Linked DNA regions of Homo sapiens. The protein of the gene in region 3 purifies or fractionates together with the protein of the main gene of each other region. This does not show direct contact. Each region holds a gene or a part of one and is shown on either strand. Other genes may lie near its edges.

Region 1 (7,024 bases), on a different chromosome or scaffold from region 3:
TGCTAGACTCTATCTGTGATAAAAGAGTTTGGTTTGGGCATTGAGAGTTTTACTCCTTTGTCTTCTATAGAAGAGGAGGGTCTTGAATCAGGAATGTCTGTATGTCCAAACTTGGTTTCATGTAACAGTGCAGTTGATGAAGGCCCAGAGATATCCCCTGCTTCAATCAAGGTTACACAGCAGACAAGAGTCCAGATTACCAGTTTTCTGACTCCCAGTCCCGTGCTCTTCTGGCAAGCCTGGCAGCCCACTAGAACAAACTCCTCCCTGTCTGCCCCCTTCCAACTTCCTGGCTCCCGCTCTTTCAGGCTCCCTCACCAACACAGAAGGGGAATTGACTAAAGGATTAATAGCCGTCACCTACATGAGCCTACGTAAAAAGAGCCCTGAGTCATGTAGGGCCTAGCCCCAGGGTTTCCAGGAGAAGAGAGGGAGAAAAAGAGAGAGAGAAGCCATCCTGGAAACTCAATCTCTCTCCAGAGCGACGATCAGGATGGGGAGGCGGGGGTGGGTAGCACAATGATTTGGGTCAATGACAGGACAGCCAGGTGTGCTGCCCTTGCCAAGGGAGTGCCTAGAAGGCCTTGCTTAGCTCAGGCATGAAGGCTCCAGGCAGGCACTGCTTGCTGGTTTCTTTCAGAATCACCTAATTAGAGAATTCTAAGGGACACTAAAGGTTTGGTCAGCAACAATCTCTGGGCTGTTTGGTGAATTTCTTCTCTTACAGCCTGGGACCTGTCTCCTCAAAAGTTAGGTGGGTGACTCTGGAAGCCCTCAGTCCCCAGGTTCCCTCAGCTGGCCCCATGGCATGGTGGGAGAATGCCTGTCATCCTACCTCCCTTTGTGGCCCACTCATCAGGGCCCAGGTGCTCCTGTCTGGACAGGAGAGGCTGTGGGTGGGGAGCAGTGAGGGTGGGAAGGTAGGCTTCCTAAAGGACCTTACTTTCTTAGAAGATCCCTCTGTGTGCTCCATGGGGACTCTCAGCACCCAAGAGCTTAGAAAAGACACTCCTATTGGTCAGGAGTTTTGCAGATAAAGTGAGAAGAAACCAGGAATCTAGGAGTGCCTCTGGCATGGACTTCTCTCTCTGGCTAAGTATTTGGAAAAATTTCAAACCTGAAAGGTTGAAAAAAATAGCACAATAAACAACTGCAGACCCTTTACTTAGTTTCACCTTTTTTTTTTGAGACAGGGTCTCACTCTGTCAACAGGCTGGAGTATAGTTTCATGATCACGGCTCACTGCAGCCTCAAGTTATCCTCCTGCCTCAGCCTGCTGAGTAGCTAGGACTACAGACAGGTGCACAGCCTCCATGCCCAGCTAATTTTTTATTTTGTAGAGGTGGAGTCTTCCTATGTCATCCATCTCTACAAAAAAACAAAACAACAATAACAACAAAAAAATTAGCCAGCCATGGTGGCATGCACCTGCTCCAGTTACTTGGGAGGCTGAGGTCGGAGGATTGCTTGAACCTGGGAGTTTGAGGCTGCAGTGAGCTATGACTGCACCACTGCACCCCAGTCTGGGTGACAGAACAAGGCCCTGTTTCAAAAATAAATGGGGGCTGAGTGTGATAGCTCAAACCTGCAATCCCAGCACTTTGGGAGGCTGAGGAGGGTGGATCACCTGAGGTTGGGAGTTTGAGACCAGCCTGACCAACATGGAGAAACCTCGTCTCTACTAAAAATACAAAATTAGCCGGGTGTAGTGGTACATGCCTGTAATCCCAGCTACTCAGGAGGCTGAGGCAGGAGAATCGTTTGAAATCAGGAGGCGGAGGTTGCGGTGAGCTGAGTTTGCAGCATTGCACTCCAGCCTGGGCAACAAGAGCAAAACTCCATCTCAAAAAATAATAAATAAATAAATAAATGGGGCCGGGTGCGGTGGTTCATGCCTGTAATCCCCGCACTTTGGGAAGCTGAAGCAGGTGGATTGCTTGAGCCCAGGATTTCGAGCCCAATCTGGACAACACGGTGAAACCCCGTCTCTACAAAAAATATGAAAATTAGCCAGGCATGATAGCATGCGCCTGTAGTCCTAGGTACTTGGGAGGCTGAGGTGGGAGGATAGCTTGAGCCCAGGAGATCAAGGCTGCTGTGAGTTGTGATTGTGCCACTGCACTCCAGCTGGATGATAAAGCAAGACCCGGTCTCAAAAACAAACAAACAAACAAAGAGATGCATTTCTGTTGCTTAAGCCACCCAGTCTATGATGTTGTTTTAGCAGCCCAAACTAAGATATGCTAAGACCAATCTTTCACCCAGTGGTTTTAGTATCCATTAAACGCTAGACTAAATCAGCTATTATAGTAGAGGCTGCAAACTGGTCAATTTAAAGTTCCAGTCTGGCACTGTGTCTCACCCATTATCCTGGTGCTTTGGGAGGCTGAGGCAAGAGGATCGCTTGAGCCTAGGAGTTCAAGGCTATGGGCCACTGCACTCCAACATGGCTGACAGAGTGAGACCCTATCTCTAAAAATAGGTAGGTAAATAAAGATAATGTTGGCTAAAAGATGCAAAGTTTCAGTAGACAGAAGGAATGTTTCTGAGATTTACTGCACTACATGGTGACTATAGTTAATGTAATGCATGTTTCAGAATTGCTAAGAGAGATTTTAAATGTTTACACTACAAAAACAACGATAAATGTGTGAGGTGATGGATATGTTGATAGTTTGACTTAATCGTTCCGTAATGTATGCATATATCAAAACATCACATTACACCCCATACATATATGAAACTAGTATTTTTCTATTAAAATTAAATTTAAAAAAATTTTTTTTGAGACGGAGTTTCACTCTTCTTGCCCAGGCTGGAGTGCAATAGTGTGATCTTGGCTCACTGCAACCTCCGCCTCCCAGGTTCAAGCGATTCTCCTGCCTCAGCCTCCCGAGTAGCTGGGATTATAGGCATGCACTACCACGCCCGGCTAATTTTGTATTTTTAGTAGAGACGGGGTTTCTCCATATTGGTCAGGCTAGTCTAAAACTCCCGACCTCAGGTGATCTACCCACCTCAGCCTCACATAAAATTAAATTTAAAGAAAAATCTTGTCATTACTACTAGATTTTATTAGTTGGCATTTACTTTATTTATTTATTTATTTATTTATTTATTTATCTGATATGGAGTCTCGCTCTGTCTCCCACTGGAAGTGCAGTGGCACAATCTTGGCTTACTGCAACCTCTGCCTCCTGAGTTCAATCGATTTCCGGCTAATTTTTATATTTTTAGTAGAGACAGGGTTTCACCATGTTGGCCAGGCTGGTCTCAAACTCCTGACCTCAAGTAATCCACCTGCCTGGGCTTCCCAAAGTGCTGGGATTACAGGTATGAGCCACTGCGCCCAACTGGCATTTACTTTTTAATTTTTTGAGACTGAGTCTTGCTTTATCACCCATTCTAGAGTGCAGTGTCATGATCAGAGCTCATGGGAGCCTCAAACGCCTGGGCTCCAGCGATCCTCCTGCCCTGGCCTCCCAGTGTGGTAGGATTACAGAGTGAGGCCTTGTGTCTGGCCTCGTTGGCATTTCTGTTCAGAGTTTTCCCTCCCTGCTCCTCCCTGTCCATGTCAACTGTCAAAATAGACTCAAGGAATTTTTAATATTCAATGTGTTACAATCTATTACCATTATCCTTTGGAATGCTTAATGTGTTTCACCTCTGGTTGGCGGGAGACCCTTTAAGCCAGCTCCTGTGACAACATGTCATGACATGAGCATGCTCTAGTTTCTGGCACAACACAGTTCACTTATACTTTCCCAGTCTCAGACTTGAAATTAGTCATTTTTTCAAGGAGCACTGTTCCTTACAACCTCCCCCGTGGGAAGTTGTACTTAGAAATAAAAATCCAGGTACTAGGTGTGTTCCTTTCCACAGTCCTTTCAGTGGACAGACCCACAAGATATACAAAAAAACCCCGAAAGATTCTTTTTCCCCTTCCCCCATTCCATACTTATATCTCTCTTTTTCCATAGTGAGACCCTGATTTCCAGAAATATCACCATAGTTACTCATTTCATCTATCATACAATAAACGAAACAGTTTCCAATTTATGACACAAATACCACAACCAATAACATGTCTACAAAGTAAAGGTCAAGATTTCTTTGTAGGTGGTTTTTTTTTTTTTTTTTACTTAAAATATGAATATAGAATCAGGGAATGAAGGTTAAAAAGTACTTAAATTAGGCCAGGCGTGGTGGCTCACGCCTGTAATCCCAGCACTTTGGGAGGCTGAGGTGGGCGGATCATGAGGTCGGGAGATCGAAACCATCCTGGCTAACATGGTGAAACCCTGTCTCTACTAAAAATACAAAAAATTAGCCGGGCGTGGTGGCAGGCGCCTGTAGTCCCAGCTACTCAGGAAGATAAGGCAGGAGAATGGCGTGAACCCGGGCGGCAGAGCTTGCAGTGAGCCGAGATCCCACCACCGCACTCCAGCCTGGGCAACAGAGCGAGACTCTGTCTCAAAAAAAAAAAAATTTCTTACTTCTCCTGCTTTCTTATCCCAAAGGTGGCATACTATATACTGTACTATGTCTTGGTTTTTTCACTTAATAATATATCCTAACAATCATGTCATATAAGTTCACAGGGCTCCTAGTCATTCTTTTTTTTTTCTTTTTGGCTACCTAGGATTCTATTGTATGGACTGTACCATTGTTTGTTTAACCATTTTTTAAAGAATGGGCATTTGGATAGTTTCCAATGATTTCCTATTGTAAATATGCCTTTAAAAACCACCTTGTGGCTGGGCTTGGTGGCTCACACCTATAATCCCAGCTCAGGCAGGTAGATTGCCTGAGCTCAGGAGTTTGAGACCAGCCTGGGCAACACGGTGAAACCCCATCTCTATTAAAATACAAAAAATTAGCCGGTGTGGTGGCTAGCACTTGTAATCCCAGCTACTCACGAGGCTGAGACAGGAGAATTGCTTGAACCCGGAAGGCAGAGCTTACAGTGAGCTGAGATCGCGCCGCTGCACTCCAGCCTGGGCGACAGAGCGAGACTCTGTCTCAAAAAACAAACAAACAAACAAACAAAAATCACCTTGTACGTAGCTTTCCATATTTGTGAATGAGCACCTTCTGGATAAATTCCTAGACGTAGGATTGCTGGGTAAATGTGTACGTAGCTTTGTTAGATATTGCTAACTTCCCGGGCTCAATACTAACAGCCCGTCTTACCCCTGGGACTCCCAGCGCCCAGCACGGAGCCTGGGATGTTAGATGGGCTGTTAGTATTGAGGGTATACTACTTGTTTGTATTCCTGGCATTGATTTCGCAACCTAGGTAGACCTTGCCATGAGGTGTTCTAAGCTAAGACTTTCCTTGAACCTAGCTGAGAGTCCCTGACCTTCCTACCAATAAACGCACTGCTCCAAACTCCCTTTGCCACACCCCAAGTGAAGTGGCAGAAAGGCAAGAGGAAGGGGGTCTTAGTAATCCCATCCCAGTTCATCTTCCCTGAGTTGTCCCAGGGATTTGTGCATGAAACTTGGGAAACTAGAGCAGAGGTGAGTAATGAGGCTGAGGATCTTAGGCAGAGAGGAACTGGGGTGAGGAAAGGTAGAAATGGGGGCTCTGCCCCTTGGCACCTATGTTCTCAATCCTTTCCTTTCCTTTGGCCTCTCCACTATCCTTCACACATAGACTGCCTCTCAAGCCTCTTCCCTGACCCAGAGCCCTTGGCTCTGGTCCTCACTAGATCCTGCCTGGTTTCCCTCCTCAACTCAAGTTCATGTAGGCTGAACACAGAGGACTGGCTTAAGGTAGAGGCAGAAATAGAAAGTCCCTGTCATTTCTGTTTTAACATGTACAGAGGAAATAAGTCAGTGGAACAAGAATGGCTCACACAAGGGAAAGAGGAAAGAGGACACAAGGAGAGATACTGGCAGAGGAAGCCAAGGGCAAAACATTCCACACAAGCATTTTGGACTCCAGCCCCAGGGCCTGCTCTAATCCTATGACCTGCAGAAAAGGGGACATGAGTGGAGAAAGGTTGTCATCCCAGTCTGACAAGGCAGAGGCCTTGCTTTTCTCATCCCTCTTTCCTTCTCACCCCTACCCACCAAATACCCACTGGGATGACAGGAATCAATGCTTATCTGAGAAGCAGGGAACTGGGCTGGGTAGGGAGCCTTGTCTGAGGGGCGCCCTTCGGGGGAAGAATTCAGATTGCCTGAAGAATCCTTCCAGAGAAGGATAGTTAAGACTCTGGGTGGGGTGTTCCCCTTCAAGGTCAAACACTTGGAGCTAATCTAACCTAAGCCAAACAGTTTTTTAGGGGTTTGGCTAACGGGGTTTGTCTTGGTCATTCTGGGGACTAAGAATGAACAAGATCCTTTTCTCTCTCCAAGGCTTAGTGGGTCTGCAATGCTCTGTCCTAGTGGATAGGGCTAATCCATGTCTTTGGGTGCTGGGTCCAAGGCCAGGAGCATTGAAAAAAAAAAAAAAAAAAGAGAGAGAGAGAGAGAGAGAGAAAAGGGGTTTCGGAGTTTTTGAGAGAAGCTAAATTCTTGAATAAGGGGCAGTTTCCGGTGGAAGGCTTGACCTGCTGACAGGTGGCAGGGAGCAGCCCAGACCCCGTTCCTCTCGGGACCTCCGGTTAGTGGGAGTGGGGAAGAGTAAAGCCTCCCGATATCCTGGCCCAGGACATCCAGCCCCTACACATCACCTTACCTCTTCCAGCCCCCACACCTTCGGCAAATTCTAACTGCTCTCCTTCTGCCCCTAACTGGGCCCTCTCATTTTGATTTTCTTCTGACAAAGACCACAGCAGTGTGACAAATCTGCCTAGCCACGCCCTGTCACCTCTACCGTGGAGAGCAGGCTTTCCATTGTGCAGAGGGGAAACTGGAGGCCAGACGGCGGGTTAGGAACTCGCTGGCGTCAGGCTGATTCCAAGGCCCCCAAACTGCCCGTGCTTCTCTCAACATGCCTTGACCCAGCGCTCTAACATCCCAGGCTCCGTGCTGGGCGCTGGGAGTCCCAGGGGTAAGACGGGCTGTGCTCCTT
Region 2 (7,587 bases), on a different chromosome or scaffold from region 3:
CATCTGTAGTCCCAGCTACTTGGGAGGCTGAGGCAGGAGAATGGCGTGCACCCAGGAGGCAGAGCTTGCAGTGAGCCGAGATTGCACCACTGCACTCCAGCCTGGGCGACAGAGCAGGACTCTGTCTCAAAATAAAAAGGCTGGGTGCAGTGGCTCACACCTGTAATCCCAGCACTTTGGGAGGCTGAGGCAGGGGGGATCACGAGGTCAGGAGTTTGAGACCAGCCTGGCCAATATGGTGAAACCCCGTCTCTACTAAAAATATAAAAATTAGCTGGGCATAGTGGCAGGCACCTGTAGTCTCAGCTACTCGGGAGGCTGAGGCAGAACAATCACTTGAACCTGGGAGGCGGAGGTTGCAGTGAGCCGAGATTGTGCCACTGCACTCCAGCCTGGGCAACAGAGCCAGACTCCATCTCAAAAACAAACAAACAAACAAACAAAAAAACCCCAAAAAACAAAACAAAAACAAAAACAACAACAAAAAAAGCTGGGAAGCTGGGTGCACAGACAGCACCTAATGCCCAGGGCTCTGCTCTGCTGAAGGTGACATGAACTCAAATAGGAAGAACGCTGCCAGGCACCCACCCAGTACGTCCTCAATTCACGTGAGCCAAGCCCCCGCCCCATCACAGGCCCCCGGCCTCCTGCTCAGCTCTGCCTCTTCCACCAACCCTGCTCACTACACTCCACAGCTCCACACGCACATGGGGCTCGATCGTGCCTCAGCAAAGGGCCTTGGCATGTGCTGTTTTCTCTGCCCGGAATACACAGTCACACAGCTCCCTTGCTGCCTCAGGCTTTTGCTGAAACATCACCTTCTCAGGAGCCCCTCCCTGGCTGCCCCATCTAAAGTTCCCGGCAATGTCCCATCCTGTCCTGATGTTAGATGTCATCTCTGTTTGGCATCAACTGCTGACTATGAGTTCTCCCTCCCAGTAACACCACAAAGGCAGGGGGATTTGCCTGTTTTGTTCACTGCTGTTTCCCCAGCACCTAAGACACAGAAATGTTGAATGGAACTCGTTCAGTGCTCCCTGGACCCCGTGAACCGCCATCCATTCCTCTGCTGCTCTGCTAGACCGAGCTGCATGGAGACGAGCTGCATGGAGATGGGGGGAGCACAATGATGACCCGCAGAAACAAAGCGCCACCGCACGGGTGGTTCATGGGCCTCCAAAGCAGGCAGCAAATAACAACAATCACATAACTACAAACGTGACGTCACGGAAGAAAGGTACAAGAGGCTATACGCTGTGATGGCCCCAGGGCGGGCACTCTGCAGATATCATCTCCGCTTCTCAAGATGGCACCCAGTAGTTGTTAGTTACGGTTCTCAGTTTACAGAAGGGGGAAACTGAAACTCAGAGAGCAGAAGCGGCCCTTTCTGAGATCTGAATCAAACCCAGATCCACCTCTCCTGGCTGATGGCTGTTCAGCTCCTCCCACTTCTCCATCCCTGGAGAGGAAGTTAAGAGCTAAGCTGCTTAGCTGCAGGTCAAAAGGCAGCTGAAGTTTGAGCGGTGCCACAGTCCCCTTAACCCCTCCTTTATTTTGTCCCTCATTGGTGTCTTTCATTGTACTACCTCAAAGCTACCACGTTGAGCTCCTCCCCTGGGATAGATAAGTCTTTTTGAAGGACAGAACAGGTTGTCTCTCAGGAGAGGAGAATGAGGATTCTACCCACATTCAGAGCCAGCCAGGGTGGGGGGCTTCTGTCTTTCTGTAGCCCTTGATGCTGTTCCCTTTTCCTCTTCTTGAGGCAAACACACTCCTGGAATCAGAGGGGAAGCTTCCTGATATACCTCAGTGTCCATGGCTCCAAACCTGCTGGTGTCACCTGAGGCAGGCCCAGAGAGAGACGACACAGTCACTGCTTCAGGCCCAGGGAAGCTCACAGTCACCAACTCCTCCGACGACACTTGGTCACTCAGAACTCTAAACTGTGGGTCAGGAGCGCGACCTTGCTTGCTGTTGTATCCCCGACAGAACTCAGTATCACCACCCTCATTTTGCGGAAAGACATCATGTAAATGACTCGCTCATAAACACCTCTGCCTCTCTTCAACACTGTAATTAACTGCATTTCATGCTCCTTTCCATCACAGTATGGAAGACCACTAAGCACTGGACAGCAAGACTTGGTTCAGTCTAAGAACCAACTAAGCTTCATAGATGGGGGAAACCTATCCCAGTGATCTCGCCTTACACTTTGAAAACCAAGGTAGGAGACAGATGAGATGGAAGGTAGGGCCGTTTCCAGAACAAGAGTAGTCGCTAATATGGGAACTAGTATAAACAACTCCTACCTGACCTGGGCGACGTATGCTGGGCCCTGCGCTAAGCCTTTTACAAGTATTACATCACTGAATCTAAATGACCATAACAGGGAGGACTTCAGAAAAAGGAAATAACCCGCACCAGGCATGCACAGCAAGTCAGCAGTGGGGTCATGATTAAGCCTGCGCCAAAGTGTAGAGGGTGCCCCTGGGAATCCAGGCCAGGCAGATGAGTGGCCCAGGTCGCGATGGTGACCGACAGGAAGGCCGCAGCTGGGACCCACGGCGAGGCTCGACCGTGCTGGGGGTCGGGCTCGCGTGTACACACTTACCGGGGTGCAGGTGAGCGCGCAATGCGCGTGCACAGACCAATGCCCCGAGAGGACAGTGAGCGCGTGCGCGAGGCAGATGGTGGCAAGCACGAGCAGCGCAGCTTCGGGGATCTGCACCCAACTGCTGCCCCAGCCCCAGCAGCCAGCGGCTGCGGCACCCAACCAGGCCGGGTAAAGCAGCCCGGCGAATGGCAGCACCGTGAGGCGCCGCAACAGCGCCAACCGCCGGTACGGCCACACGGCAGCCACCAGCTCGTCACCGTTCGCTATGAGCGCCGGCCCGGCGGCAAGGAGCGCGCGCGGCTGCGGCCCGGGCTTGGGCTGCCCGTCAGGCCGGACCCCGCAAGGCCGGGCCCCGCAGGGCACCGCGTTGCCCACCGCCGCCGCTGCCGCCATCTTTCCTAGCGCCGCGCTCACTTCCGGGCAGAGGAACGCCTCACTTCCGAAGTTTTACTTCCGGTAAGCCCTGAGCGCCGCCATGGCAGCCTGGACTAGGAAGAGCCAGGGCAACAGAACAGGCTGGCCCCGGCAGGGACTACTTCGGGTGCCGCCATGACAGGCTGTGGCCGGAAGAAGAGGCTGGGCGTCGCCATGACAGAGAGGGACTGGAAGACCTAACGGTGCCTGCCTCCGCTGCCACGCCGGACTGAGACCGGAAAAGACAAGGCCGGCAAGGCGGGCTTGGGCGCCACCATGACAACCTGAACCAAAAAAAGCGAGCCCTCCTCCTTGACTACACCAGCACCACCTGTCACCAGGGGCGAAGCCTGGACCCTGCGGAGGCGGGGTCGGGAGCTTCGGAGTTCAGGAGGCGGGGCCCGGTGCGGGGGGCGGGGCTTGTGAGGGGCGGGGTCGGGGACCGCCCCGGAACACAACCACACCGGACAAGAGCCTTAATGTGATAGATAAGAATTACAAATACTAGCCGGGCGCGGTGGCTCACGCCTGTAATCCCAACACTTTGGGAGGCGAGGCGGGTGGATCACCTGAGATCAGGAGTTCAAGACCCAACATGGTGAAACCACGTCTCTACTAAAAATACAAAAATTAGCCGGGCGTGGTGGCACATGCCTGTAATCCCAGCTACTCGGGAGGATGAGGCAGGAGAATTGCTTGAGCCCGGGAGACGGAGGTTGCAGTGAGCCAAGATTGCTCCACTGCACTTCAGCCTGGCCAACAGAGCAAGACTGTCTCAAAAAAAAAAAAAAGAAAAATGAATTACAAAAACCACTTTAGGCCGGGCGCGGTGGCTCACGCCTGTAATCCCAGCACTTTGGGAGGCCGAGGTCAGGAGATCGAGACCATCCTGGCTAACGCGGTGAAACCCCGTCTCCACTAAAAATACAAAAAAAAAAAAAAAATTCTCCGGGCGTGGTGGCGGGCGCCTGTAGTCCCAGCTACTCCGGAGCCTGAGGCAGAATGGCGCGAACTGGAGAGGCAGAGCTTGCAGTGAGCGGAGATTGTGCCACTGCCCTCCAGCCTGGGCGACAGAGCGAGACTCTGTCTCCAAAAAAAAAAAAAAAAAAAAAAAGAAATTACCACTTTAACATAAAAAATGAAAAACTGGTGTTTACTTGAAATTATATACTTCTAGGCCGGGCGCGGTGGCTCACCCCTGTAATTCCAGCACTTTGGGAGGCCGAGGCGGGCGGATCACGAGTTCAGGAGATCGAGACCGTCCTGGCTAACACAGTGAAACCCCGTCTCTACTAAAAATACAAAAAATTAGCCGGGCGTGGTTGCAGGCGCCTGTAGTCCCAGCTACTCGGGAGGCTGAGGCAGGAGAATGGCCTGAACCTGGGAGGCGGAGCTTGCAGTGAGCCGAGATCGCGCCACTGCACTCCAGCCTGGGCGACAGAGCGAGACTCTGTCTGAAAAAAAAAAAAAAAAGAAATTATATAGTTCTATATTATTAACTGTACTGTTGCATAAATGCTATTTGAACAAAACCACAATAGGACTACTTAACAGTACCAATTAGTAGGATTAAACAGTATGTGTGACAAACAGTAACTATTTTATGTTTCTTTTTGTCCTCTGATACAGCAAATTTATTTAAACTTAAAATTTATTGGATATTTAAATTTTGTAGCTTATATTGTTGCATATTCTTTTTTTAATTTTTCGAGATGAAGTCTCACTCTGTCGCCCAGGCTGGAGTGCAGTGGCGCGATGTCCGCTCACTGCAAACTCCACTTTCCGAGTTCAATCGATTCTCCCATTTCAGCCTCCCAAGTAACTGGGATTACAGGCGCATGCCACCGCTCCGGCTAATTTTTGTACTTTTTTTTTTAGACGGAGTCTCACTCTGTTGCCCAGGCTGGAGTGCGGTGGTGCGATCTCAGCTCACTGCAACCTACGCCTCCTGGGTTCCAGCGGTTCTCCTGCCTCAGCCTCCCGGGTAGCTGGGACTACAGGCGCGTGCCACCATGCCTGGCTAATTTTTTGTATTTTCAGTAGAGATGGGGTTTCACTATGTTGGCCAGGTTGGTCTCGAACTCCTGACCTTGTGATCCGCCCACTTTGGTCTCCCAAAGTGCTAGGATTACAGGTGTGAGCCAGCGCTCCCAGTCTAATGTTTTGTGTTTTTAGTAGAGACGGGTTTCGCCATGTTGGCCAGTCTGGTCTCAAACTCATGGCCTCTAATGATCTGGCCGCCTCAGTCTCCCAAAGTGCTAGGATTACAGGTGTGAGCCACGGTGCCCAGTCCTAGTCTTGTTTTGTTTTCTTGGGACGGAGTCTCACTCTTGCCCAAGCTGGAGTGCAGTGTTGCAATCTAGGCTCACTGCAACCTCTGCCTCTTGGGTTCAAATGATTCTCCTGCCTCAGCCTCCTTAGTAGCTGGAATTACAGGCATGAACCACCATGCCTGCTAATTTTTGTATTTTTAGGAGAGACAGGGTTTCACCATGTTGGCCAGGCTGGTCTGGAACTCCTGTCCTGGCCTCAAGAGATCTGCCTGCCTCGACTTCCCAAAGTGCTACAGGTGTGACCCGCTGCGGCCACCCACTGCATATTCTGGTTTTTTTTTTTTTTTTTTTTTTTGAGACGGAGTCTCACTCTGTTGTCAGGCTGGAGGCTGGAGTGCAGTGGCGTGATCTCAGCTCACTGCAACCTCTGCCCTCGGAGTTCAAGCGATTCTCCTGCCTCAGCCTCCCGAGTAGCTGGGATTACAGGCGCCTGCCACTGCACCCAGCTAATTTTTTGTATTTTTAGTAGAGACGGGGTTTCACCTTCTTGGCCAGGCTGAGTCTTGAACTCCTGACCTCGTAATCCACCCGCCTCGGACTCCCAAAGTGCTGGGATTACAGGCGTGAGCCACCGGGCCCGGCTCTGGTTTTTTTTTTTTTTTTTTTTTTTTTTTTTTTTTTTTTTTTTTTGAGATGGAGTCATGCTCTGTCGCCCAGGCGCAATGCTGTGATCTCGGCTCACTGCAACCTCCTCCTCCTGGGTTCAAGCAGTTCTCCTGCCTCAGCCTTCTTAGTAGCTAGGATTACAGGCATGCGCCACCACACCTGGCTAATTTTTGTAATTTTAGTAGAGACGGTGTTTCACCATGTTGGGCAGGCTGGTCTCCTACTCCTGACCTCATGATCCGCCTGCCTGGGCCTCCCAGAGTGCTGGGATTACAGGCTGAGCCACCGTGCCCGGCTGCATATTATTAAGATACATGACTTCGTAAAAGGAGAAAGGAAATGTAATAGGACTTAATAATCACATAGTATCAAATAAGATAATCTTCAGTAAAAATAGGAATGACATGTTTCTGTCCCATGATACAGTTCGATATACTTACTTTTTCAGTTTTTTCTCCAATATTAATTCTTTCCCATACAAGGTCCAAGCTTCTGCTCTTGGAGTCTGGGACTGGACCCCTTTCTGGTAGCAATACCTTTATAGAATGTTTACTCCAGGCCGGGCACGGTGGCTCATGCCTGTAATCCCAGCACTTTGGGAGGCCAAGGCGGGCAGATCACGAGTTCAGGAGATCGAGACCATCCTGGCTAACACGGTGAAACCCCGTCTCTACTAAAAATACAAAAAAAAAAAAAAAAAAAAAAAATTGGCCGGGCATGGTGGCACATGCCTGTAGTTCCAGCTACTCGGACTCGGGAGGCTGAGGCAAGAGAATCTCTTGAACCTGGGAGGCAGAGGTTGCAATGAGCTGAGATCGTGCCACTGCACTCCAGCCTGGGCGACAGAGCCAGACTCCGTCTCAAAAAAAAAGAAAAAAAAAGTGGTTTACTCCAGTTTTTCCCTGCATTTAATAATTTTGTTCCCTTTAAGGCATGTTTTTATTTTCTTGGCTGAAAAGGAGTAGCCTGAGAAGAAGTAACGTGTAGGAAGCCTTGGCCATGGGACCAATAGCCTCATAAATTCCTGATCTCTGGAGGACATCAGGGCCTCCTACCTGTTCCATTGTGACCTGGGAGTCTCTCCAGCTCCAAGGTGGAGGGATGGCTTCACTGAACACGGAGTCTGGAATTCCGTGCACACTCATGTGACCGGTGTTCCGGAAAAAGAAGCAGGAGGCGGCTGGGCGCGGTGGCTCACGCCTGTAATCCCAGCACTTTGAGAGGCCGAGGCCGGCGGATCACGAGATCAGGAGTTCGAGACCAGCCTGGCCAACATGGTGAAACCCCATTTCTACTAAAAATACAAAAATTAGCCGGGAGTGGTGGTGGGCGCCTGTAATCGCAGCTACCCGGGAGGCTGAGGCAGGAGAATCGCTTGAAACCGGAAAGCGGAGGTTGCAGTTAGCTGAGATCGTGCCATTGCATTCCAGCCTGGGCAACAAGAGCGAAACTCCGTCTCAAAAAAAAAAAAAAAAAGCAGCAGGAAGGACCCACTGAGTACAGGAAGCCGACAGGGCCTGCTCCGGAAAACCAGGAGCTGTAAGGTCAGCCGAAAGGACGAAGAGACCTGAAGTCAGTCAAGTAAGTTTTATTAACCTGCTGGGCTGCTCCCCCACAGTT
Region 3 (7,024 bases):
GGCTAGAGTAACAGGGGCTAGGGACAGGGAGGAGAAAGGAGCCACCTGAGGCCCTGGGCAGGCTACTTGGTGCTCCACTGAGCCCACGATCTTTAAATTTGGACTCCATATTTGCGGGAGAGGTGAGACCATCTACTAAGTGAGGGGAGGAAAGAGAAGGGTTTGCTGTTCCCCTGTCCTCCTGGCCACTTCAGCTCCAGCAACCTAGAACCTCTGCCTCAGTTGTAGCAAAAACAGAAGCCTTGCCTTCCCCGGGTAAGGATCAGGTGTTCTTGTTAGACCATGCCCTTTGGGGGTCTTACCTTCTACTCCAAGGAGAAAACACAAAATACTTCTAAATTCAACAGTTTTCTGTCTCAAAGGAGTTCTAGAGGGAATAAACATAATTTTAGCCTTTTGCTGAATTTCTAGTCATGTGTTTGCTGCCCTTGTGAATGGGACCCCTCAGACAATAGCCTTGCAGGCTGCCTCTTCATCTGATCCTGGTCGAGGACCTGGTTGGGGGCGGTGGCAAGACTGACTTGATGCTGAGGGAGGAACTCATGACAGGCTCCTTGCCTCCCCTTCCTTCTTTTGGGGCCAAGACTGTGCAGGACGATGGGGGCTGGCTGAGTCTATAGGATCAATGACCTCTCGGAATCCACCAGGGTCAGTGAGTTTGAGGAAGTGAGGAAGGAGCTTGCTGACCATCCCTGGGAGCTTTAATGTTTACTTCTATCTTGCAGAGTTTTTCACTGAACTTCACCCTGCCGGCGAACACAGTAAGTACAGCAGCCCCCATTCACCAGGCAACGCAGAGAAGACCAGTGCAGAATTTACAGTAGGTCTCCAGAACTCACATAAACCCCTCACACACGGTGATAAGTTACACAGACTTTCTTTTTTTTTTTTTTTTTTTTTTTTTTTTTTTTTTTTTTTTGAGACAAGGTCTTGCTCTGTCACCCAGGCTGGAGTGCAGTGGCATGATCTCGACTCACTGCAACTTCCACCTCCTGGGTTCAAGCGATTCTCCTGCCTCAGCCTCCTGAGTAGCTGGGATTACAGGTGTGCACCACCATATCCGGCTAATTTTTGCACTTTTTAGTAGAGACAGGGTTTTGCCATGTTGGCCAGGCTGGTCTCAAACTCCTGACCTCAGGTGATCCGCCCACCTCAGCCTCCCAAAGTGCTGGGATTATAGGTGTGAGCCACCGTGCCCGGCCATTTACATAAACTTTCAAAACGCACTGAGGAATAGTTGAGAGATGCTGAGAGAATTTATTTCCATTATAAAACTTATAAATACACATTTTGAAAAGGAAAATAGGAAAACAACAACAACAATAAAACACCTAAACTCTCATCAGCAGAAAACTGGTGTAACCCTTCCTGTCCTGTTTGGCGTTACATAAATTTTGACTTTTGTTGCCTTTGTACTATTGTTTTCTTACTCTACATATAATTTTATATCTAAATGTTTTCCACTAGTCTTTATAACCATAACTGTTATATGGTTAATCACATAATCATGTGATCATATTATGATCGCATAATATTTTTTCAAGTTAATTATTTCTTCAGTTGATTAACTATCATTAGGAATAACTTTGTGATACATGGCATTTTAGAGAATCCTTATCTGCATTTAAGATAATTTCCTTGTATGTATTCTAAAATGGGAATGATTGGGTCAACAAGAATGAACATTTTATGGCTCTTGATTATGGCATTTAGTTGCAAGTCAAAATTGAGGTTTTCAATTGTCGATGTTAGAGTTTCAATCCACAGCTGATCCTCCGTCTTCTGTTTGCACATTGCATATAGATAACACTAAGAGCCAAGGTTGTTATCTGATCAGTAGCACTACTATGGTTGAGCAAGGCATTTTTCTGGCCCAGTTTTTTAGTGGGCTTGGCTGTGCCACATTTTTCTGATAAGTTGTCTGGTTATTCAAAGAGAATAAACTGAATCTTACTCGTAAGAGGACTCCTAAGCCAGTGCTCATTTTACTGAAACATGGGGGCATAGTTCTAGAGAGTAGCATAAAGTTAGAACATTGTGACTTATTGCTGGACCTGTGGTGCCCACCACTGTCTGCCCAGACCTCTGTGAACTGAATACATTGGCACCTGCTCCAGCCTCTGGTGGGGGGCACTTCTGAACCTCCCCAACTTGCTCTGCTTCCCTGCTTCAGCTTCTGCCTGTTGGTTTCAGGCAAATTCCCTAATTCTTCCTCTTTTTCCTGTCAAAACCTTTTCCTTCAATCACTGCTGGAACTTTCCCCTGGCTGTTGGAACCCAGCAGGTCCATAGACACTCCAGGTTCTGTGTTATCTTGGCCCATCACATCAAGAGAATGCAGAGAAGCAAGAAGCCATTTCTTGGGGAGTGGGGGTGAATGGGGTGGAAGAGAGCCCTTATGTGGCCAGTCATCACCCTTTGGAGTACTCTCTTGGTTAACAGCTCATTTCTCTGAGAACTGTCTCTTCACCCCTTTGATCCCGTGTAGAGCAACCAACCATTTTGCTTTGCCTGGTGTTGTCTGTTTTTAGCACTGAAAGTCCTGGGCAGCTCTCTGGACAATGCGGATGGTAGGTCATCCTGCCTGGAAGTCACATTTCTACTGCATAACCCTTCCACTTCAGTGCAGCTGGGTAGCCTGGGAATGCCAGTGCCCTGGGAAGTGGGACAGAGGTGGGCACCTGGATCCCTCTCTGCGGGAAGTTTGGAACAGGGCTCCCTGCTGGCCAGTCCCTGCTGAGGACTGAAATGCCAGGTTCAGTCTATTTGTCAGTTCAGTCCATACTGAACTGTCAAGTATGAAAAATGGGACTAAGACACTGCATTAGGCCATGGAGGCCATGTAGCACAGTGGTTAAGAGCATGGATCCCAGAGCCAGACTGCCCGGGGGGGTGTCACCTAGGGCTGTGTGACCTTACACAAGTTACTTCACTTCTCTGTGCCTTGCTCCTCTCATCTGTAAAATGAGATCATCATAGTCCCATTACTATTCACTGGCAGTTGTATAGAATAAATAAGTCAATATGGGAAAAATTCTTGAACAGCCTGGCACATCCTAAGTGCTCCATGGCATTAGCTGGTACAATTAGCAGGAGTTTATGAGGGCAGAAAAGTCCATCTGGAGAGAAAGAGAGAAGCAAACATCAGAGAACAGTACAGGCAGAAGGCCGTGCTGCTCTGGAGCGAAGGAGAAAGGAGGGTGCCTTCGGTTCACACAAGTTCCCCGTTCCAAGGTCCACTCCCTGGAGAAACCAGCTTCCCACCTGTCCTTGGGCTCCATGGGACACTCCCATATTCTTAGAGTTAACACCTTCCTTTTTTTTTTTTTTTTTTTAGTGAAAGCCACCCTAAGTGTATTTCTGTACTCTGAAGACAGGAAGCCTTACCTGAAACAATGGCTGATTCTTCCTACTACCCTTAGAGCACCTTAGGGAAATGCAGGATTAAAGTAGTGTGGGGGTAGGGGTTGGGGAGATTGTGATTAGGTCAAAGGACAACCATTTAAGTACCAAGTTTCAGTGCCTGGTCATCAAAACCTTCTTTTGATGGGAGCTCTCTGGGAAAGAGGTCTGGGCTTGGAAGTCAAACATCCAAGTTCAGATTAGAGTTATGATTATCTGTGAAACCTTGGACAAGCCCCATAACTTCTCTGAGATCTATTACATTTTTTTTTTGTAAAATGGAGTTAATAATTGTCAAAAGTCCAAGCCCCAGGACTCCAGTATACTTGATGAGATTGCTGAGAGTATTAAATAAATAACAGATCTGGACAGAGCTTTGCAAAGTGTAAAGGGCTGACAAGAGTTCATAGTTCTGCTCCTCATTCAATCCTCCTAATAACCCTAGAGGCAGCTACTACTATCCCTGTAGATATTGTGTAGATAGAGACATGCAACCCCTTAGCTTGTAAATTGAGAAATGGCTGTTCTATGGCAGGCAGTGTGAGCCCAGGACCTGTGCTCTTAATCCCACAGCATACCACTTAGTGTAGTTTACATAGTTTCTCATGCAGAACTTTATTCCTTTAGATTTCCTAATCAAGGTAAACTCTTGCCTGAAATATCTTATAAATGAGTGAAATCCAATAACTCATTGGACCAATAACTCAGTGGACCAGAAACATGTAATGCATTCATTTCATGTAGAATTATCCCCAGGAGCATGGATATTTGACAACTTCTGCCATTTGTTTCATCACATACTTGAAAACAAGCAAGGCTTCCTTAAAGAGCCTTGCTTCCACCAGTATTTATATGTGTTTCCCTTCTAGCAATGGGGACAAGTAGGCCCAAAGTGTGCCAGGTGTGCTGACTAGGGACAGGAGGAAGCCCTTTTGAGTTGTAAAATGTGTCACGGTACATCCACAGGGTGAATAATGAAGACATTGCCTGAATTTCCTAATTCTTTTCTCCTTGTAGCCAAATTTTATTCCAATTCTTACCTGGGAAGCAATCAAGTTAGGTTCTGTTTGGTAGTTGTTAACAGAAAGTTTAGCAAAGGGATAAACTTTAGGCTTTATAGCCTAAACTTTGGCAGATTGTCTTGTATAATGTATATTCTATAGACTTTTTGTTCTTTTACAATATATGTTCTTTTTCCATACAGACGTCCTCTCCTGTCACAGGTGGGAAAGAAACGGTAACTATATCACTTAAATTTATAAAATGGGGATAATAATAATGCTCCATCCATCTTGAGCATTTGTTTTGAGCTTTAAAGTTTGATAGGTGAACTGTCACTAAGCACAGAATCTGGCTCAAGAATTATTCTTGACCAGCTCCGCTCAAAAGTGAGGGAGAACATGCAAAATCACAGATGGATTTCACAAAGGGTTGAGCAAAAGAAGCCAGACACAAAGAGTGCATATCTTATATTTGCATCTATATTATGCTGAAAAACAGACAAAACTACTCTATGGCAATAGATTTCAGAATAGTGGTCACGCACAAGGAGGCTGGAAGAGATTTGAGGGGGATCCTGAGATACTGCTAATGTTCTGTTTCTTGATCTGGGTGTTGGTCTTATGGGTGTATTCCTCATGTGAAAAGTCATCCACTTATATATTTGTGATTCATATACTTTATTATTCTTCAATAAAATCAATTTCCCCCTAAAGTGAAGTGAAGGTGAATCCATTATTAAATAACAGTTGCACTTTTATAGGGTTTCTGCAGATTATCTTCAATATTTCCAGATAGTCTGCAAATCTGAAAACTTATGTAACTAAAAGCATGACTATTTCCACTCCGATCAAAGCAAAATGGGAATTTGAAAATTAATAGGTTAATGCATTTATTGCAAATAAATTTTTTTTGAAAGGCTAAATGTCACTTTTTTATTTATTTATTTTTATTATACTTTAAGTTCTAGGGTACATGTGCACAACGTGCAGGTTTGTTACATATGTATACATGTGCCACGTTGGTGTGCTGCACCCATTAACTCGTCATTTACATTAAGTGCAAATAAATTTTTTTAATTCATATTAAAATAGTGTGGTATGGCTGGGCATGGTGGCTCAAACCTGTAATCCCAGCACTTTGGGAGGCCAAGGCAGGCAGATCATGAGGTCAGGAGTTAGAGACCAGCCTGGCCAACATAGTGAAACCCCATCTCTACTAAAAATACAAAAATTAGCTGGGTGTGGTGGCATGCACCTGTAGTCCCAGCTACTCAGGAGGCTGAGGCAGAAGAATCGTTTGAATCCAGGAGGCGGAGGTTGCAGTGAGCCAAGACTGTGCCATTGCACTCCAGCCTGGGCAACAGAGCAAGACTCCATCTCAAACAAAAAAAAAAGTGTGGTGTATAATAAAAGCTTTTATTTTTAGCCAAACAGGTGAAAATGACATCTAATTGTTGCTCTGAATTGTATCTCAGCTTTTCCTACATTGAAGAGACATTTGTATTTCTGTTCTAAAGAATACCTGTTCATATCCTTTGCCCATTTTTCTACTTGATCATTACTCTTTCCAACAGATTTAAACTGTGTAAATTAAGTCCTATGAAAGTAAGTCATTTGTCATGTGTGTTACAAACATTTTTGCACAGTATTTCATTACCCTTTTGATTTTGTATATGACGTTTATGATCCATGCAGATTTTTTGTTTTATTTTTATTCTATTGAATTTTTCCTTTATTATTGAAGACTCTGGGCTTCCTCTGACCCTGTGTTTTTCATTCTGTGCCAGGACTGTGGGCCCTCTCTTGGATTAGCGGCGGGCATACCATTGCTGGTGGCCACAGCCCTGCTGGTGGCTTTACTATTTACTTTGATTCACCGAAGAAGAAGCAGCATTGAGGCCATGGAGGTGATTACTAGCTTCTTTGGGTCCAGATGTATAGGCAGCCACCAGTATTTCAGTGAACTGGCTTTTGGACTAAGGGTGTCAGAATTCAGGGCCCATGTCTATTTCCTGAGGACAAGATGCTGGAAGTTTCTGGGCCATAATTTCCACTGCAGACATGACATTAGGCACCAGACAGAGCTGATTTGTCATAAAACCTTCAGGTCAGTTGAGGAATTCCTGACAAAGATGGTATTTGGGGTAACAAAAAGTAGCAGTGGAGAAGGATGTCTGTTGCCATGGCAAACACATGTCTGTACAGTGGGTGTGCTTTCTAAAGTTGAGAAACAAAAGCGCACAAGCTTCACAAAGAAAGGATGGAGATAACGTTAAGAAAGATAGGAGATGAAGAGGGGCTGAGGTGTCCATGATAGACACCATGATAGAATCACAAGGGAATCTATATCCTCCCCATCCAATCCACCCCTCCAATGCCAGACTGTTCTGGGGACTATGCTTAGAAATCAAAAGCCACCTAGACTCATATCCAACAAGGTTCCATGGTTGTGACACAACTGTGTCATGTGGACTCTGGGTTCTAATTCTATTCTCTATTTATTGACATTCAAGGTTGTTATCATATGGGTAAACATTAATTAAGAGATTGAAAATTGAGGTTCTAAACCTGACTCTGCCACTTTATGATTTATATGATCCTGGACAAGTGACTTAACATTTA
Region 4 (7,024 bases), on a different chromosome or scaffold from region 3:
GATCATGATGCCACTGCACCCCAACCTGGGTGACAGAGTGAGACCCAGTCTCTAAATAAATAAATATAAAGAAGCTAATCGTAAAATACCTGCTTAAAAAATAGGAGACAAGGTATGTGAAAAATAATTTTTTTTTTTAAATAAAGAAATAAGCTCCTCCTTACCTTTTCAGTGGACCCTGATACAATGATTGTTCCCAGTTGATTCATGGCCAGGCTATAAATGGAATCTTTGTTTCCACTTAAAGAAGAAGCTATTGAGGATAAACGGAGCTAAATGTTAACAAGATCATCAGCTGTTTAGTAACTAGTCAGCAAAAACTGCAAGTTTATTCAATTTAGAAAATCTTATCTTTATAAGTCCTCTACGGAAAAGAAATCTACCTATAATGGAGATAAATCTAAACAGTATTATTATCAAAATTTACATATTTTCTGGATTTGAATATATACAAATGCTCAATATCTGATAAACTGCAGTGCCATTGAAAAGCTATCCGCTTAAATGATATGTTTAAAGCTATTCATGTGCCATAAATATGAAAAAATGTTCAATTTCAGTATTTTTCAAACACAAATCAAACCAAAAACACTGTTTCATACACCAAGACAAAAAACAAGGTAATACTTGATTGTAAAAAGAAAACAGTACAATGGAACTCTCATATATTACTTATGTGAAGATAAATAGGTACAACCTTTCAGGAAGGAATTCAGACTATAGCAAAAATCATGTTCATACTCTCAGTATCACTGAAGTAAAAAAGATGTATATGAAACTGTCTATATAGTATGAACCCAATTTTACAAACATATTAAAAAGTTGAGTAAATGAGTTACTACATGTACTGTTTAGAAAAATGTCTACTTGTAGCAAGTACTCAATACAGGTTAGCCATTATTAGTATTATTTTTATTATTATGTATTAAAAAAAAGTGTGATATCCTCTCTAAACAACTCTAAGCAAGATGTAGCAGAATCTGTATCCACTAAGCCTGGGCCCTGACCTTGTGACAACCTGCTTTTTTTTTTTTGCTTTGTTCCCTCCCATTAGTGTCTCTTTGAGGCAGGCCTTACATCCAGACTTAAAACCTAATGATGTACCATGACAGCCCCAACAGGGACCAGCTAATGAATCAGAGATAATGTACAGGTGAAAAATCAAGAACAAGGGAAAAAGAATGTTGAGACCTTCACATATTTCCTGGAAAACAAGGCAAAACAACAATCAAGAGATTATAAACACAAGTCTCCCAACTTACCCTTCTTGGCACATACTAGGCTATATTAGTAAAACTGTATTGTCTATGTCAATGTGAACACTCCACAGAGTCGTTATAAAATGGACCTATAATGTAGGGATCCAGAGAATGCAGGCCCATGTCTTCAATGTAGACTTTCCAGGTCAGGCCTAGCCAAAAATGTGCTCCTAACAGTCCCTTCTGAAACCTGGCCTAGAGGACTCTACTAGGTTGGGCCAAGCATGAAGCTCAATTTCAAATCTAGACTTGTATGAGCCTGACTTGGTAGTCTGAGATCTCTTAGCTGATGAATCATCCATGCTGTGAACATCTCTGGATTGCCTCTAGAAGCACTCTACCGTTCTGGCTCTTCTGGAATTGGCTTGATTCCTCAGGGCTGCTCTAAAAGGCAGAAAATTTGATAAACTGGCACTGGAAACCTTTTCTTTCTTTCTCCTGGGTATTTTTCATCTTGGCTATTAACTCAAAAGCTCTTAACACTTTAAAAAGTCAGAAAACCGCCTACTTTGTCAGAAAATCGCCACCTCCTTCAATAATACCTGCTGAGTGTATGGATTTGGACCAGGGAATGCTGTGGGAGATACGAAGTAGTAAGACAGTCTCCTCTACCCTGCAGGGACTTACATTTTAGCTAGGGAGCTAAGACATGCACACGTACAAAAAATAACCAGGTTATACCTGGAGAAGTTACCATTTTTAGACTGCAGTGAGGAACTAGCTCTTTGTTGTTCAATCATACTCTTGGGGGCCAGAACGCTGTAGGTAGAAGCACTCTCAAAATATGAAACACTCTCTCGATGCAAACCTATCAAAAATGTTTTATAAACCATTCTTTATTTATGTTAACTTGGATCACTTTCAAAGAAGTTTCTTTTAAACACCTTACTTGTGACAGTGTTATTTGAGGCAGTCAATGCTGTTAGAGTATTCACATCCCAAAGGAATATTTGTCTGTCCAACCCAGCTGATGCTACTAGTTCTTTATCCTTGGCATATGCTAAGGCCTTTACGTAATCCTGTAATAGAACAGACATACTATGATCTATTCTGTAGATCAGTAATAAAATGAGCCACACAAAGTACTGAGATCCCAATATTACACTAAAGACACTGAGAACTGTATTGTTTTACCTTATGTGTCCTTAATGTTGACATGCAAAATCCCTTGTGTGCATTCCATACTTTTACTGTCGTGTCAGAAGAAGCAGATATTACTAGAAGAAGCAAAGAATTAACAAACTCCTTAGTAGTATGACTTAAAACTTTGAAAACTTATCTTACAACAATGTAACATTATTTCAAACTAACATATTCTCTCTCTTACACACACAAACATACCTAAAAGCTCTTTCTAGAACCTATTGTATATTGCCTCAATTTTTTAAAATCTCAAGACACATGTTCAAAGAAAAAAATATATTTTTAAAACAAGCAGTGCAAACATTTTTAATGTTCCAGTTGAAGGCTCAACTAATGTGATTGAGAAAAATTCCTGTAACTCGGACTGCAAAACCAAGGAATGGATCTCACCAAAATTAGAACAAAAAGAGGTATTAATAAGGCTAAAAGAAGAATACATATAGTACGAGTCTATATACAGTTCAAATGAAGGCAAAACTACCCTTTGGTGTTCAGAAGACAGAAGAGCAGTTACCTTGGGGCAAGAGGGAATAACTGAAAGGGTGGCAAAGGGTGGCACAAGAGGGCTTCTAGTAATATTGTTTCTTGATTTGGGTATTCACTTTCTAAAATTGTGTTGAACTGCAATCTCGAAGTGTGTGTACTTTTCTGTATGTATGTTTCAATAAAAAAGCTTATATAAAAAACAAAAAATATATCAGAAGCCCAATAATAATCCAAAGAAATACTTACATGTTTTCCCATTACAACAGAGTACAATGTCGTTTACCCAATCAGTATGGTGTTCCATAGATGCTATATATGGATCTTGCTGAAATTAAAAGAAAAATCCTAAGAGTTTATATGAGAGAATGAAATATATTACAAATGATAGATATGGTTAAATTCTTCAATTAATGTGACATACTGCTCTAGGCATTAAAACTAACACCTGAATTCTGAGTAGAATCTCACCAAATAGGTGATGCTTCCAGATAACAGATGTAAACAGTTTTGTTTCAGGACAGTTTTACTCTTACTGAAAGCTTAGGTTTCCAGGACAAATACTTCATTTTTTTTTTTTTTGCCTTGTTAAAGTGAAGGCAACAAGCTCTGGACTAGGCACTGTGTGTGACATAAAACCCTTTAAAAAGGGTTCACTAGAAAGGACATGACTTGTAGGAATCTGTAGGCTGTGGGGATTTGAATGAGTGGTGGTGAAGGCTCAACAGCAGACAGCAGGGGCAGCAATGAGTCTGATGAGTGCACTAAGGAGCCTGGTCTGAATGCAGAGGGAGATAAACACTTCTGCTTTCAGCTTCCTACTGTTGGGTTCACCCTCTGAATTAAATGTTTTCCTCATGGTACCTACAGGCCTTCAGAGATGAAAGGAAACCCAACGGCTGAGAAAGGACAACCTGTGTCACCATTTCAATTAGGTGATTCGAGATTCTACTTCTCTTACCTGGCTTAATAACCAGGAGAGGCCTTTTAAAGAACAGTATTTAGTTACATCCTACACCTAAAACAGGCAAGTTTGAGACACTTTATGGGCAAACAGAACAGCTCTGTACAAGTCTGTTTGACAAATAATGCTATTCAATCTTGTCATAAAAGGAAGACCAGAAAAAAGATGTTTGGGGCAAGACAGGCAGATTTCCAGATTCTTCAGGTTAGTTCTTTTGGGTGTTTTTCTTAATTTGTTTGAAATACTGTGAATGCTCAGAAAGGAGACATTCCAATTCAATTATAAGTACCAAAAAGCATTTCAAAGCCAAACATAGTTTTCTTACTTTTCATGCTTTTGACATTTGGCCACCACTGCATGGTCCATTGGCTAAAGAATTCAAAGCCTGCCAGACTGAAGTTATAGGCGCATAAAGTAGTGGTTCTTTTTCTGAACTGAATATCAGACTTGTAAAACTTGCTAAAAAGACACAAACTTTTAAAAATACAAGGTCTAGCACTAGGGTTTTCAAGTTGGGCTGGGTACTAATTCTCTGTCACTTCCTAGCCACATAACCATGGGTTTCTCTGAGCCCATTTTCTCATCTATGAAAATGGATCTGGCCAGGCGCGGTGGCTCACGCCTGTAATACCAGCACTTTGGGAGGCCAAGGCAGTTGGATTATCTGAGTCTAGAAGTTTGAGACCAGCCTGACCCACATGGTGAAACCCCGTCTCTACTAAAATTATAAAAATTAGCTGGATGTGGTGGCGTGTGCCTGTAGTCCCAGCTGCTGAGGAGGCTGAGGCAGGAAAATTGATTGAAGCCAGGAGTCAAGAGGTTGCAGTGAGCCAAGATCGCGCCACTGCACTCCAGCCTGGGTGACAGAGCGAGACTCCATCTCAAAAAAAAAAAAAGAAAAAAAAGAAAATGGATCCTAATAGGTACCTTGAGGGACACTGAAAATTAAAATCACATTGGATATGAAAATGCAAAGAGCGTATGGCACATAATTAGAAGATCAATAAATGCTCTTTTTTTCTTCCCTGATTCTTCTTTTCTCTGTCATTCACAATATAGGTGTTCCAACAAAATACTAAAAGGGCTCGTTACCATTTGCCTGGGGATTTATCTTTACACATATTTAAACCCTGTTCCCTGCTTAAGAAAGGGAAATCTTTGAAGGGGAGCATGTTGTCTTCATAGTTTTAACACCAATTTTATATTATCTTTATTTATTTATTTGAGACAAGGTCTCCCTCTGTTGCCCAAGCTGGAATGCAGTGGTGTGATCACGGCTCACTCAGCCTCAACCTCCCATACTCAATCAAGTGATCCTCCCACCTCAGCTCCCCGAGTAGCTGGGACTACAGGTGTGTGCCACCATGCCCAGCTAATTTTTAAGTTTTTTTTTTTGCAGAGACAGGGTATTGTCACATTGCCCAGGCTGGTCTCGAACTCCTGGACTCAAGGAATCCTTTCACTTTGGCCTCCGAAATTGTTGGGATTGCAGGTGTGGGCCACCATGCTCAGCCTAACCTTGTATTACCTAGTTAGGCCGTGTGGGGTTTGTGAGGATCCTAATTACTTTTAAGTGAGGAAAATAAAATATTTTTTCAAGATTAATTAGAAATGTAAAAGAATATTCAATCTTTTTTTAGTAAGGTTACCAAGAGGTTGTTGGGGAACATATTTAAAGCAAAAAAATTAATTGTTGAAAGTAATCCCCCTACTAGCCAAATCACTTTGTTCCTTTGTGGCAAAGAACTCTGTAAGGCAAACCTAGTTTAGGGAGTCCTTGTCTTAGCTGAAACACTTCTGAAACTTTCCTAGGGATGGTTTTTCTCAGAGGCTTACAGAATTCTGGTTGCGATGTCTTTATAGAGTGTACCAAATAACTCAGCATTCAGAGAGATTAAATCTGAAACTGTGAAAAGTGTCATATTAGACAGTAAAAGCCATTTGTCCAGAATTTGCTGGGTACAGATTTTAATCCCTGCATTACCTTGTGCTGATTGACACTCCATATTCTTATGATAGAGTCTCGACCGGCTGTGAAAAGTCTATTTAGTGCTGGATCCAGCTGCAGAGCATTGACTCCATTTCGGTTGTACTTCTCCACTTCATCTCGAATAACATAGGAAACCTGACAAATGTGTCAACATATGCTTTTTATAAAGTACAAGCCATGCAGTAATAAAATATAGTCTACTAGTGGCCAATCTGAAACAGAAAATCCCATGTTTTCCAATATGTACTTTTTCAACCCAATACAAATTTAAATTTTACTCCTTAAAGACTAAAGGGCTGAAGAGAAGGATGGTATCAATGATAGCCTAGTCCAACATGAGTAAGTTGCTAAACTACTATAACTGCTTCCTGACTGGACTCCTTTCCCAGTCTTTAGTCCATTTTTCACAAAGCAGCTAGAGTAATTATTTAAAAATCTATCTCAGCTCTGCTCAAAAACCTCCAGTTGCTGACTACTAGACTCATGATTGGATGTAAATTCCTTAACATGGTCTCAAGTACCCTGTTTGTCTTTCTGGCCACTCATCTCTGCTCCAGGTTCTGGTGCATTGTGCCTCCAGACCATCACACATGCTGGTCCTCTCTGTTTGGAAGCTCTTCCTCCGACCTGTCTGGCTAACTCTTGTTGCAGCCTTCAGGTTTCCATTTAAACAATACTTCCTTTAGAAGGCCTTCCCTGACTTGCCAAGCAAAATGAGGTTTTGAGCTCCTATCACATACTAAACTTTTTCTTCAGGGCATTTTCCCCTACTTTGTTACTGTTGGTGACCTCTGTCTGTTCCTTGTGAAAACAGGGGATCAACTGAAAACAATTACACCTAAGAAAAAGTCAATAAGCTGGCTGGCAGCCAGAAGTAAAACTTTCTAATGTAATGAAATAAACAGTTAAAAATTAACTCAAGATGGACTAAAGACTTAAATGTTAAGACTTAAAACCATAAAAACCCTAGAAGAAAACCTAGGCAATACAATTCAGGACACAGGCATGGGCAAAGACTTCATGACTAAAACACCAAAAGCAATGGCAACAAAAGCCAAAATTGACAAATGAGATCTAATTAAACTAAAGAGCTTATGCACAGCAAAAGAAACTATCATCAGAGTGAACAGGCAACCTACAGAATGGGAGAAAATTTTTGCAATCTACCCATCTGACAAAGGGCTA

The links.
Region 1: the proteins of OPALIN (region 3) and ATP2B4 purify together in Homo sapiens (co-immunoprecipitation; 2 studies listed by BioGRID and IntAct, with this or other methods). This does not show direct contact.
Region 2: the proteins of OPALIN (region 3) and ATP13A1 purify together in Homo sapiens (co-immunoprecipitation; 2 studies listed by BioGRID and IntAct, with this or other methods). This does not show direct contact.
Region 4: the proteins of OPALIN (region 3) and WDR48 purify together in Homo sapiens (co-immunoprecipitation; 2 studies listed by BioGRID and IntAct, with this or other methods). This does not show direct contact.

The regions. Positions count from the first base shown.
Region 1 is NC_000001.11:203,629,813-203,636,836, reverse strand, and holds part of ATP2B4 (plasma membrane calcium-transporting ATPase 4), read right to left. Parts: intron 1-7,024. UniProt on the Homo sapiens protein: Calcium/calmodulin-regulated and magnesium-dependent enzyme that catalyzes the hydrolysis of ATP coupled with the transport of calcium out of the cell. By regulating sperm cell calcium homeostasis, may play a role in sperm motility.
Region 2 is NC_000019.10:19,660,660-19,668,246, forward strand, and holds the start of ATP13A1 (endoplasmic reticulum transmembrane helix translocase), read right to left. Parts: upstream 3,018-7,587; 5' UTR 3,008-3,017; coding exon 2,612-3,007; intron 1-2,611. UniProt on the Homo sapiens protein: Endoplasmic reticulum translocase required to remove mitochondrial transmembrane proteins mistargeted to the endoplasmic reticulum.
Region 3 is NC_000010.11:96,348,992-96,356,015, reverse strand, and holds part of OPALIN (opalin), read left to right. Parts: intron 1-725; coding exon 726-761; exon of another isoform or gene 762-820; intron 821-2,487; exon of another isoform or gene 2,488-2,560; coding exon of another isoform or gene 2,561-2,569; intron 2,570-4,605; coding exon 4,606-4,638; intron 4,639-6,189; coding exon 6,190-6,309; intron 6,310-7,024. UniProt on the Homo sapiens protein: Central nervous system-specific myelin protein that increase myelin genes expression during oligodendrocyte differentiation. Promotes oligodendrocyte terminal differentiation.
Region 4 is NC_000003.12:39,062,000-39,069,023, reverse strand, and holds part of WDR48 (WD repeat-containing protein 48), read right to left. Parts: intron 5,975-7,024; coding exon 5,834-5,974; intron 3,214-5,833; coding exon 3,135-3,213; intron 2,477-3,134; coding exon 2,394-2,476; intron 2,279-2,393; coding exon 2,149-2,278; intron 2,068-2,148; coding exon of another isoform or gene 1,954-2,067; intron 254-1,953; coding exon 165-253; intron 1-164. UniProt on the Homo sapiens protein: Regulator of deubiquitinating complexes, which acts as a strong activator of USP1, USP12 and USP46. Enhances the USP1-mediated deubiquitination of FANCD2; USP1 being almost inactive by itself.